2 separate regions of the Homo sapiens genome follow, and region 1 is linked to region 2. The links come from fine-mapping of genetic effects on gene expression. A gene starts in region 2. The other region holds a variant in brackets. All regions are shown on one strand. Distances are between the middles of the regions. Region 1 overlaps CD8B (CD8 subunit beta). Region 2 holds the start of CD8A (CD8 subunit alpha).

What was found. PIP is the estimated chance that this variant, and not a neighbour inherited with it, causes the effect.
Region 1: its variant is fine-mapped to the expression of CD8A in cerebellar hemisphere (GTEx, PIP above 0.99). The same link has a PIP of 0.9 or more in cerebellum.

Annotation. Positions count from the first base shown.
Region 1 is chr2:86,854,214-86,859,581 of GRCh38, forward strand. CD8B (CD8 subunit beta) reads right to left here. Exons shown (of 6, transcript NM_004931.5): 2 at 3,844-4,203. Among named protein-coding and RNA genes, the nearest start is that of CD8B, 5.0 kb to the right of the region's middle. RefSeq lists enhancers at 1,863-2,364, 2,365-2,864. The variant G/T (reference allele first, on the strand shown) is at 2,545.
Region 2 is chr2:86,788,389-86,793,706 of GRCh38, forward strand. It overlaps CD8A (CD8 subunit alpha), which reads right to left and starts at 2,525. Exons shown (of 6, transcript NM_001768.7): 1 at 2,389-2,525; 2 at 1,940-2,293; 3 at 1,252-1,362; 4 at 935-1,045; 5 at 142-172. The coding sequence starts at 2,437. RefSeq lists an enhancer at 1,226-2,060.

The sequences.
Region 1 (5,368 bases), 66 kb after region 2:
GGCTGAAGACCTTGAGCCCCAGGGCTGGATCGCCCAGCCTTTGGCACAACGAGCCCCTCCGCCCAACTCGGCATTCCCTAAGCACATGGAGGAAGCTCATGGAAGGAGGGGGTGCCCTTTTCTGCATGTAGAGTACCACACAGGTGTCATATTTGGGGATTGGTTTTCCTTCTCAGATGGCCCTAAAATATATATATAATACCAGAGCTAAGGGAAGTTCAGTCTCAAACTTTAATTTCAAAGGTGAACGCCAGAGATGAGGGGAGCTGGCCCCTGCAGCCCCAAGTGGTGAGTGCTGTGTTGGGACCCCAAACCCCTGTCCTGACTCCTGGATGGGTCACCCCTCTCCTTCATTTTTACCCAGTGACCCCTGCTGAAGTGTTGGGAGGGGCAGTGGGCCAGCACCCAGAGCAAAGGAAGACAGCTGTGGCTCTGATGCCTACTGGGGATGAAGGGGGCACTGCTGGCCACAGAGTCCAACCCTTGCCTTTGTGGGTTAAGGAAACAGATCTCTCTGCACTGATTTTCTCCAAAATGGTAGGAGAGGGAGTAAGGAGACACCATGAACCTAAACTCTAGAGTCAGGGGGACAGAAAAAAAAAAAAGAAAAGAAAAGAAATATTAAGGCTGGGCGCGGTGACTCACGCCTGTAATCCCAGCACTTTGGGAGGCCGAGGCAGGCAGATCACCTGAGGTCAGGAGTCCAAGACCAGCCTGGCCAACATGGCAAAACCCTGTGCCTACTAAAAATACAAAAATTAGTTGGGCGTGGTGGCACGTGCCTGTAATCCCAGCTACTCAGGAGGCTGAGGCAGCAGAGTCGTTTGAACCTGTGAGGCAGAGGTTGCAGTCAGCCAAGATCCTGCCACTAAACTCCAGCCTGGGTGACAGTGACTCCGTCTCAAAAAAAAAAAAGGTTTTGGGGGGTTGTAAGGGGGAACAGGCAGGGGAAGCCCACAGATCAGTCATTTTTGGGCTGGCATCTTCTATATAAAAGTAGACATTTTAACCCCTCACCTCTCTGAGCCTCCTCTGGAAAGCGGAGAGAACACGATCTGTTTGTCTGCTTCAAGACATTGATGGGAAGAAGCAACTAGGATGAAAGTGCACTAAGCTCCAACCATGTGTGGGGAGCAGTGCTGAGCCTTTCAGCATAAGTTTACTGGACACAACAACTTTTGGGGCAGGCACTGTTGTCCCCATTTTATCCAGGAGGAAGCCTAGGCTCAGAGAGCTGAAATAATGTGTCCAAAGTTAGACAGCCACTGGCTGCAGAGCCAGTATCTGCACCAAAAGACCTTGATTCTAGAACCTGTGCTTCTCGTTCTGCCACACTACCTCACGTGCAAAGATTTTCTGACAAAAGTTGAACACTTTAGGTCCACCCAAGGCCCTGGGTCATCATAGTGCTGAGGGCAACTATTGTAAGAGGAAACTGTCATCAGCAGGGTCGGAGAGCGTGCAACGAGCCTGGCCCTCTCCTGGGAGTGTTGCCTCCTTCAATCCTCATGGCCCTAGAAGTAGTTCTGTTTGACTTATTTTCTACCCGAGGAAGCAGGGACGTCTTTCAGATGGTCAGTGGTGAGCCCAGAGGGGAGCCAACTCTTTGGGCCCTCAGTGCCTTGGCTGGGCACCGCCGCCTGGGTCTAGTGGGAGACTCAGGTTGGGGGACTGTTCTGTTTTAAATTCTTCTTGCCTAGAGCCAGGTCCCCCTGGATTCCTCCTGAGCACCCAGTTTAATCTCTCCCTCTCTGTTCTTAAAAGGAATAAAACTTCGAGCCCATGATATACTTAAGGGCCTGAAAAAGGCCCTGTCTTTCCCCAAACACTTTCTCAACCATCCCAGCTTTGTCCTCTAAAAGGCCTTTCTTGGGTGAGAAGGTGGGGTTCGGCTCCGAAGAAGGTCTGGTTGCAAGCCCTGGGGAGAAGCAGGTTTGGCTGCAAGCCAGAGCTGGAGAGAGGCATTGACATTCCTATAGTGCTGGGAGGGGTTTGGGGTTTGGAAACACGGAAGTCAGGAGTGAGTGCGGTTGGGATGGAGGCGGTGGGAAGCTCTGGAAACTAGCTGTGTTTATTGTACCCTCCACCTTCTCAGACTCTGAAATCTCATGAGTGGAAAGGTGTGGGGCTTACAGAGACAAAAACAATAAGCTAAAGCCAAACCCCAAACCCCAAACCCCAAACTCCCAAAGTCCATTTTTCAATACGAAAATCAGTGGACCCCCACGTGAAGGGATGCCTCAGCTTCTTGCCTGCAATACACCCTCCCAGGCTAGCAAGAGGTGGCGGGGCATCACTTTGGTTTGTGTCTTCCTAATTGTGCTGCTGTCCCCAGCTGCCCCTGCACTTCCTCACGCTGAGTGGTCTAATTTCTGGGTCCCCTTGTGGCTTTTAGTGCCCTCAAGTGAGCAGGAAGCAGGGCAGTGGGAGCCCTGGAGGGGGTTGGCTCCAGCCTTGGGCCAAGCTGGAGGTGGGGCTAGAGCCAGAGCCAGGCTGTGAGAGTTACCACCCATAACTAAATGCCTTCTGTCCAATATGCCACAG[G/T]TGCTGCTGAGCACATGAAATGTGGCCAGTCTGAATCGAGATGAGCCATATGTTTTATGTAAAATGCTCATCGAACACTTAGTATGAAAAATGAATGTAAAATATTTCAGCAATACTTTTTATATTGATTACATGTTGAGATGAAAATATAGTTAATAAATTGAGTTAAATATAACATTATTTAAATTAATTTTACTTGCTTCTTTTTGCTTTTTTAAACAAGACTTTAAAAATTTAGAATTTCATCTGTGGCTTGAAATGTGCGTCTGCTGGACTTGCTGACTTAAGTCAGAGGTCTGCAGCTTCTCTGGGATTAAGTGGGTCATGGAGGCCATCAGCACCCCCGTGTGACACAGAAGAGAACACTGAGGCCCAGGGGAGAAAGCATGGCAAGTTTGCAAGCAGAGCTGGGCCTGGCTCAGTCTCCTTACTAACTTCGACTCAGGTATGAATTCGAGCTGTAGGCCCTCACAGAGAACATAAGGGCACCTGCCCCTAGAAATGCCCTCACTGGGTATATCAGGGCAGTGAGGGCCTCCTTTCCCTGTGTGCACACTCTGGGGATTTCTAACACCACTATAAGGCCAAGGGGCTCAGCCCAATCCAGCCGTAGCTTTGAATGTCCCTGATGTGGCCTGAAGGACAGCACTGCCCTGTCCCCATAAGAAGAATAATGCCTGGCCAGGCATGGTGGCTCACGCCTGTAATCCTAGCGCTTTGGGAGGCTAAGGTGGGTGGATCACTTGAGGTCAGGAGTTCAAGACCCACCTGGCCAACATGGTGAAATCTCGTCTCCACTAAAAATACAAAAAATTAGCCAGGTGTGGTGGCTCATGCCTGTAATCCCAGCTACTCGGGAAGCTGAGGCAGGAGAATCACTTGAACCCGGGAAGCAGAGGCTGCAGTGAGCCAAGATCGCACCACTGCACCCCAGCCTGGGCAACACAGTGAGGCTCTGTCTCAAAAAAAATAATAATAATAAATAAATAAAAAAGAGAAGCACAATGCTCATCTCTGACTCTGGCCCGTCTCTTCTAGTTTCATCTTATTCCCACCTAAAGTGGTTAGGTAATAGACCTACCTTCCAGGGTGGTTGGCAGCATTAAGCAAGCTAACTATGTAAACACTTGGAGGGGCTTGGCCTGGGTAAGTCTCCACATGTTCTTTCTGTTACTATTAGCAGCAGTGCCATTAGTCACGGCTGCAGAGTGGGGCACACTGAAGCCTGGTGGTCCCAGTGCCTGGCACGTGCCTGGCACACAATCGGTGCTCACTGATAGCATTGAGCCTGCTTCTTACCCACACTCAGCTGAGTTCCCTTCCCGAAGGTCAGCTCGGGGCTCCCGACGATCATGCAGAAGTAGATGCCACTGTCTTCCGGCTTCACGCTTGTGAGATTGAGAATGAACCGGCTTGCATCCCGAAACACAGCTATCTTCTCCTGTTCCACCTCTTCACCGTGGATAGTCCCTTTTGCGGAATCCCAGAGGGCCAGGAACTCGTGGTGACTGTCACTGCTCGGTGCCTGGCGCTGTCTCAGCCAGTAGATGCGCATGTTACTGAGGGAGATTTTAGCCTCGCAGGACAGCATCACCATCTTGTTGGTTTGCACCTTTATGTATGCAGGGGTCTGCTGGAGGACTGAGTTGCCATGGAGAACTAGGAAAAGCCAAGAACAGAGACATCACACATTTTCCTAGCCACAGCTGTGGGACCTTGCAGTCACACTGAGTCAAGTGTCAAAGGAAAAGCCATGGAAGGACCTGCCCAGTTACTGGGTCCAGGGAGTGTGTTGAGCGCAGCTGTTGGCTCCTGGACTCAGAGTTCACATACCCCACCTCCCAGGAGATCATCTGGAAGGGAGGTGTTTGCTAAGTTCAGCTTTACAAAGGTACAGGGGAGAGAGCTGCCATTTGTTTATTGTGTACTTATATGCCTGGCCCTTGCATAAAGGAACTCAATCAAGCCTCAAACTGGCTTTGGAATTTTTTAAAAGACATGGGGTCTTGTTATGTTGCCCAGGTTGGAGTGGAGTGGCTACTCACAGGCACTATCATAGTACACTTCAGCCTTGACCTCCTGGGCTCAATCTATCTTCCCACCTCAGCCTCCCAAGTAGCTGAGAGTATAGGCATGTACCACCACAAAAGGATAGATCCAGGATTTTTAATCCTCATTACACAGATGAGGAAACTGAGGCATGAAGTTACTTGTTCAAAGTCCCACTTACAGTATGTAAGTGGCCTAGGAGTCAAACTCAAGGATTTGAAGTCTGAAGCCAAAGCTGGTTGCCTTTCACCTCCCCTGGCTGCCACTGGATGTACAGCCCTTCGGTAGGCTCCAAACTGCCGAAGGAGACCCAGGACAGGCTGGGAGAGGAGCCCAGAATCACAGCAGAGCATGTGGCTGGTCTGTCCGTTGCTGGACAGACCCTGGTAGGTACAATTACAGCCCATGACCCCCGAGCCCAGCAACTGATGGGTCACTGGATCCCTATTCCCCAGTGGAAGGACAGACACCACAGAAGCAGGGCTGGGAGTTCATCTTAGACTCTGACGAGAAGCACCCGGCAAGCAGGGGCTTATTCATGAGGAGCTAGAGCAGGACTCACAGACCTGGCCCTGAACCCAGCCTCTGGCCGTGCCAGCTGTGAGACCTCAGGCCAGTCACCGAGCCTCTGTCTTCTTATGAACGGAGGACAGCTTGGGGCTGTTGTCCTGCCTGCCTCTGAGGGTTGGAAATAAATGAAATGCTGTCCAAAAAAGCACACTGTAAACTGTATGGCCATGTACACAGGTAAATACTGTCCCTGTGTCTCATATCA
Region 2 (5,318 bases):
GGAACTGGCTGACTCCCTGCCCCAGGATTTCACGGCCATGACCTCTCTCTGGGAAAAGTTCCCACTATTTGCTGCTGGGGAAACCAGGACCCCACCCCAGGGCTGGCCAAGGTGAGCAGGCTGAGTTCAAAAGAGACTCACCGGGGACATTTGCAAACACGTCTTCGGTTCCCTGGATAAGGAAAAAGAAGGGAAAAAGTGAGTGCCCCTATCCATCAATAGTCCCCAAAGACAGTGTATTTTTTGTTGTTGCTGTTGTTGTTGCTGCTGTTTTTTGGTTTTACAAAAAATCATTTCAGAACGATCATGGGCTGAAATTGGATGAGGCAAATAGGGAATTGCCTCTACGAATTCTCCTTCCTTTCCCCTATTTCTTTGAGGATTATAACTCTTGAGAGCCGGGTAAGGGCTTCTTATCCATCCTTCGTCTCAAGCATCAATTAAAAAAAATTGCAACTACAGACGCGGGCGAAAGCGGGGAGCCTGCAGACCTGATCCGGCACCTCTCTTGCATGGGACCCAAAGCAGGGTGGGCGGTTCGCCGAAGAGGGCCAAGGACGAACCTCAAACTGATGGTGGTTTTGACTAACCCTCCTGGGCACTTGACTCGGCCACAGCGGCCCCCTCCCGGCGGGCGTTTGTCATGTGTCCAGACATGTGCGCGCGCGCTGCGGGCTTCGTCGACGGAACACACCCGCTGCAGCGGCTCTGGGAACGCGGCTTTGTCTCCCAAAACCTCTCCGAGAGCGCAAGGAGCGGGAAGGGCTTTCTCGCATTCTATCTCCCAGAAAGAAGTGCCTGTACCTGCGGGGCAGCTCGGGAGTCCCAGAAAACTCAACCCCAAGCTCCCCCCTCGCAAGGTCCGCCTGGAGCTAGCAGAGCCAAGGGCAGGAGCGGGGCCGACTCCTTCCCGCCGCGATTCCTCGGGACTTACTGTGGTTGCAGTAAAGGGTGATAACCAGTGACAGGAGAAGGACCCCACAAGTCCCGGCCAAGGGCGCCCAGATGTAGATATCACAGGCGAAGTCCAGCCCCCTCGTGTGCACTGACGACACCAAAGACGCCGACATTTAGGAGAGGGCCCGGGACCTCCCAACCGCCCCACCGTCCCGGGAACGTCTCTCCGCCTCAGATCTCGGTTTCCCACCACTTGGACAGCCCTTGACTCTACCTACAGTATCAGGGCTGTCCCTGGCATGGGCTCTCCCCGCGGTGCGTGCCGCCCCCGCCCCGGGCCCCCGCACGCCTCACCTGCGCCCCCCGCCGCTGGCCGGCACGCCTCTGGGCGCAGGGACAGGGGCTGCGACGCGATGGTGGGCGCCGGTGTTGGTGGTCGCGGCGCTGGCGTCGTGGTGGGCTTCGCTGCAAGAGCAACAGAGCGTGGTTGGGGGCCAGGCTGGGGTTATGGAGGCGCCCCAGCCCCGGCCTCGCGCACCTTTCCCCACGGGGACGCCTCCCCCCGGTTTTCCTGGGAGAAGGGATAGCAGAGGAGACAGGATGGGGACCCCGGGATGCGCGCGGACCCCTGTGCTCGGGCCTCGGCTCAGCCCAGCGCACCCGGCGCCCAGAGCCGGAGCGCAGGAGCCAGCTCCCCTGCACCTGGCCTCTCTCCCGGGCTGAACCAGCAACCCTGGAGCGCGGGTTGATTGCTGTCCGCATTTTACCCACGAGCAAACGGAGGCGCAGATAATTTAAGTCATTTGCCCAGAATCACACAAGAATCCGAACTCGAGTCCAGATCGGCCGGACGTAAAAAGCCATCCCCAGTCCCTACTCAGCCTCGCGTTAGCCTCAGTTTGCTGTGTCTGTGAAATGGGAACAGTATCTAAGTCGCTTCCAGGTGCGCTAAGAGGCTTGAAAGCAGGGCCCAGGTGTGGAAAACAGGTTGAGGTGAACCCCAAGCCCCACGCGGAGAGGTGCCGCAACCCGGCGCGCGGACCTGGCAGGAAGACCGGCACGAAGTGGCTGAAGTACATGATGGAGTTGCTCAGGGCCGAGCAGAAATAGTAGCCCTCGTTCTCTCGGCGGAAGTCGCTCAGGGTGAGGACGAAGGTGTCCCCCAACCTCTTGCCCGAGAACCGCTGGGTGTCCAGCCCCTCGGCCGCCTTGGGCTTGTTTTGGGAGAGGTATAGGAGGAAGGTGGGACTGGCGGCGGCGCCGCGCGGCTGGAAGAGCCACGAGCAGCCCGACGTCGGGTTGGACAGCAGCACCTGGCACTTCAGCTCCACTGTCTCGCCCAGGTTCCAGGTCCGATCCAGCGGCGACACCCGGAACTGGCTCGGCCTGGCGGCGTCTGCAGGCGGCAAGCAGCGAGGCTGAGCCCGCAGTCCCGCGCCCCCCGCCCCCCGCCCGCCCCATCCCCTGCCTTCCCGGGCGTCTCAAACTCACGGAGCAGCAAGGCCAGCGGCAGGAGCAAGGCGGTCACTGGTAAGGCCATGACGCGCTCCCCAGGACGCTGCTTGGCTCGAAGCTCGGGCGCGAGGGGAGGCGCGCGGGAGCCGGTGGGGCGCCGAGGGGGGAAAGTTGCGCCCTTCGGCCGGCCCGGAGCCTGATTTCGCATTTGGAGGATGTGATGTCACCCGAAGCCCCCGCCGAGGAGAGTCACCCTCCTTTTCGCGGTTGTCGCCTTCCAGCCCGGCGAGGAGGCTGGGGCCCGTGAATAGGGCCGTCGAGGCAGCCTGGCCAGGCAACTGGGGGCAGCTGAAAACTGCGGGTTTGGGGATGAGGAAAAGGGCTTGGAAATAGTCCTTGGAAATGGTTGTCTTGTGAGAGTGACAGAGTGGGTGAAGGGAGACCAAAGATTTCAAGAAGTGAGGGCGAGAGTAGGCAGCAAAGGAGGGGAGTGTCCCTTCCTTTGCCTTCACTAAAGGCGTCTCTTGTACTGTCACCTTGGGACTTTTTATTGGCAAAATGGGCACTGAGGGCTGAAAAGGAAGAGGAACTAGCGACCTGCCCGCTTCTGAGGAACTCGCTAGAGCAGCCCCAGTTTTCACCGAGGAAGGACCCTCTCCCTTCCCCCAGGAGATTTCCATGAGAGCGGCAGCAGCCGAAGCTTTGGGTGTCGGTGTCAGTGCGCTGCTGACCTCATTCTTCCGGCCTTTCATCCAGCGGCTAAACTCACCACACAGCCTCATCTCTTCTTGGAGCCATTGCAACAGCCTTCAATTCACACCAGTCTCTCTCCTGATCAGTCCTCCAGCCACGTTGTTATAAAAATTATTATTCTCACAAAGGGGATCTGACAGCGTCACTGCTGCAGCCTCCCATGGCCTGCATTGCTGGATGGAAATTCAACCCCCAGCTTGGTTGACCAGCCCTTGGGTGCTGGCTCCTCCCAGCCTCCGCACAGCCCCCTGCCCTGCCTTTCCCATACACCTGCAGCTGCAGCTTCACAGGCTTGAAGTCATTCAACCCCTGCGCTCTGTGCTTTCACGCCCTTGCACTTGCGGTCCCTCGGCCTGGAATGCTGGTCTGTTTAAGCCCTGGAGGCAGCTCCTGTGCTGTCTCATTTGGACCTCATTTCTTTCACCCCCAGCTCTGGGTGCTCTGCAGGGAGGTGTGGGTGATGTGGGTGAATGCTTGGGTAGAGGCGGTTTTCTCTTTTCTGTCCCTAACACATGTGTGTCCCCTTCCTTTTTGTTTCTTTAAAAAATAAAATAAAATAAAAAAGACTGGAGTCTCGCTGTTTTGCTCAGGCTGGCCTTGGGACTCCTGAGCTCCAGTGATCCTCCCACCCCAGCCCCCTGAGTAGCTGGGACTACAGGCTCATCTTTCCTTTTTGACTGTTGCTGTCCTGAAACCTTCCAGCTCCAGTGGCATGCCCTCTTCCCATTTCTTCAGGGTTTCTGAGTCTTTCCACTTTGAATCCCATAGTGGCTGCACCTCACATTGCTACTGCTTGATCCTAGAGACAAGACACCTGGCATTCTGTGTTCCATGTGTCTGCCCCACCCATTAGTTCTGCTGGGCGAGGACCATGCCGAGACTTCATGATGTGTCCTCCATCCCCAGAAACACAGCATGGGCTGAGCTGTGCTTGTTGAACTGCATTCTCCTTGTCCTTGTGAAGTACAAACTTAAGTGTTGGATGGGTTCTTTGTCGTTGTTGCTATTTTTTTTTTTGAGATGGGGTCTGGCTGTGTTGCCCAGGCTGGAGTGCAGTGTGGCACCACCTCGGCTCACTGCAGCCTCTACCTCCCAGGCTCAAGTGATCCTTCCACCTCAGCCTCCCAAGTAGCTGGGACCACAGGAGCACACCACCATGCCCAGCTAATTTTTTGTATTTTTGGTAGAGATGGGGTTTCACCATGTTGCCCAGGCTGGTCTCCAATGCCCGAGGTCAGGCGCTTTGCCCCGCCTTGGCCTCCAAAGTGTTGAGATTACAGGTGTGAGCCACCATATCAGGGCCTGGATGGGCTTTTTTTTTTTTTTTTAATTATTTTGATTTCAGTACCTCCTTCCAGCTCCCTCAAAGCATCCAAGATGCTTATTCTAGCATGGAACATGTAACATTTTATATTCAGAAATTTTTAAAAATGTCTTTTAAGTGACAACAGTGCAATATATTCTTGTACGAAAACAAACACAAAGTTCCCTGTCTCAACTCTCCTCACTGTCACCTGCTCCCCACAGAAAACCACTGTTACAGTTGAATGTGTCCCTTAGATATTATCTGTACATAAACAGATGTTTATACATCATCTTAGACACATGGGATTGTATGAGATAAATATTTTTTTGCAACCTATCTTGTTTCACAGTAGAAGGAGAGCGTTCAGCAGATGAAGATCCACCCCATTCTTATAAATGGGTGCATTATATATGGGTGTTCCATAATTTAATTCTGCTGTTAGTGGACATTTAGGCGATTTCTCATTATTGCAACACTAGCAAGGCTGTGGTAGATATAATGTATCTGTATCACTGAGGGCTTGCACCAGTACCTGCAGCTTTTTCAAATGGGAGATGAGGGAGTTGGGGAAGAAAACACCTTTACAATGATGGTTATAACTGGCCTATCGATGTATGCATGTGTGTGTGTGTGTGCATGGTATGAGGGTCCCTCGCTGTGTAGACACAGTGCTGTCCCTCAACTCACATGAATGAGGGAGACAAGGAAGCAATCAAGTCCAGACAGGCCACCAACACATCAATTCTTGCTGTAGATGGTAGTTTGCCATTTTGCTCAGCACCACCAGCACTGTATCAGGAGTGTCAAATGGCCCTGCTGGCCAAAGGCTACAATCAACAGGGTGGTAAGGAAGATGGCTAGACACGAAACTGCACTTGCCCAGTGGTGGAAGCACTGAGGGGGCCAG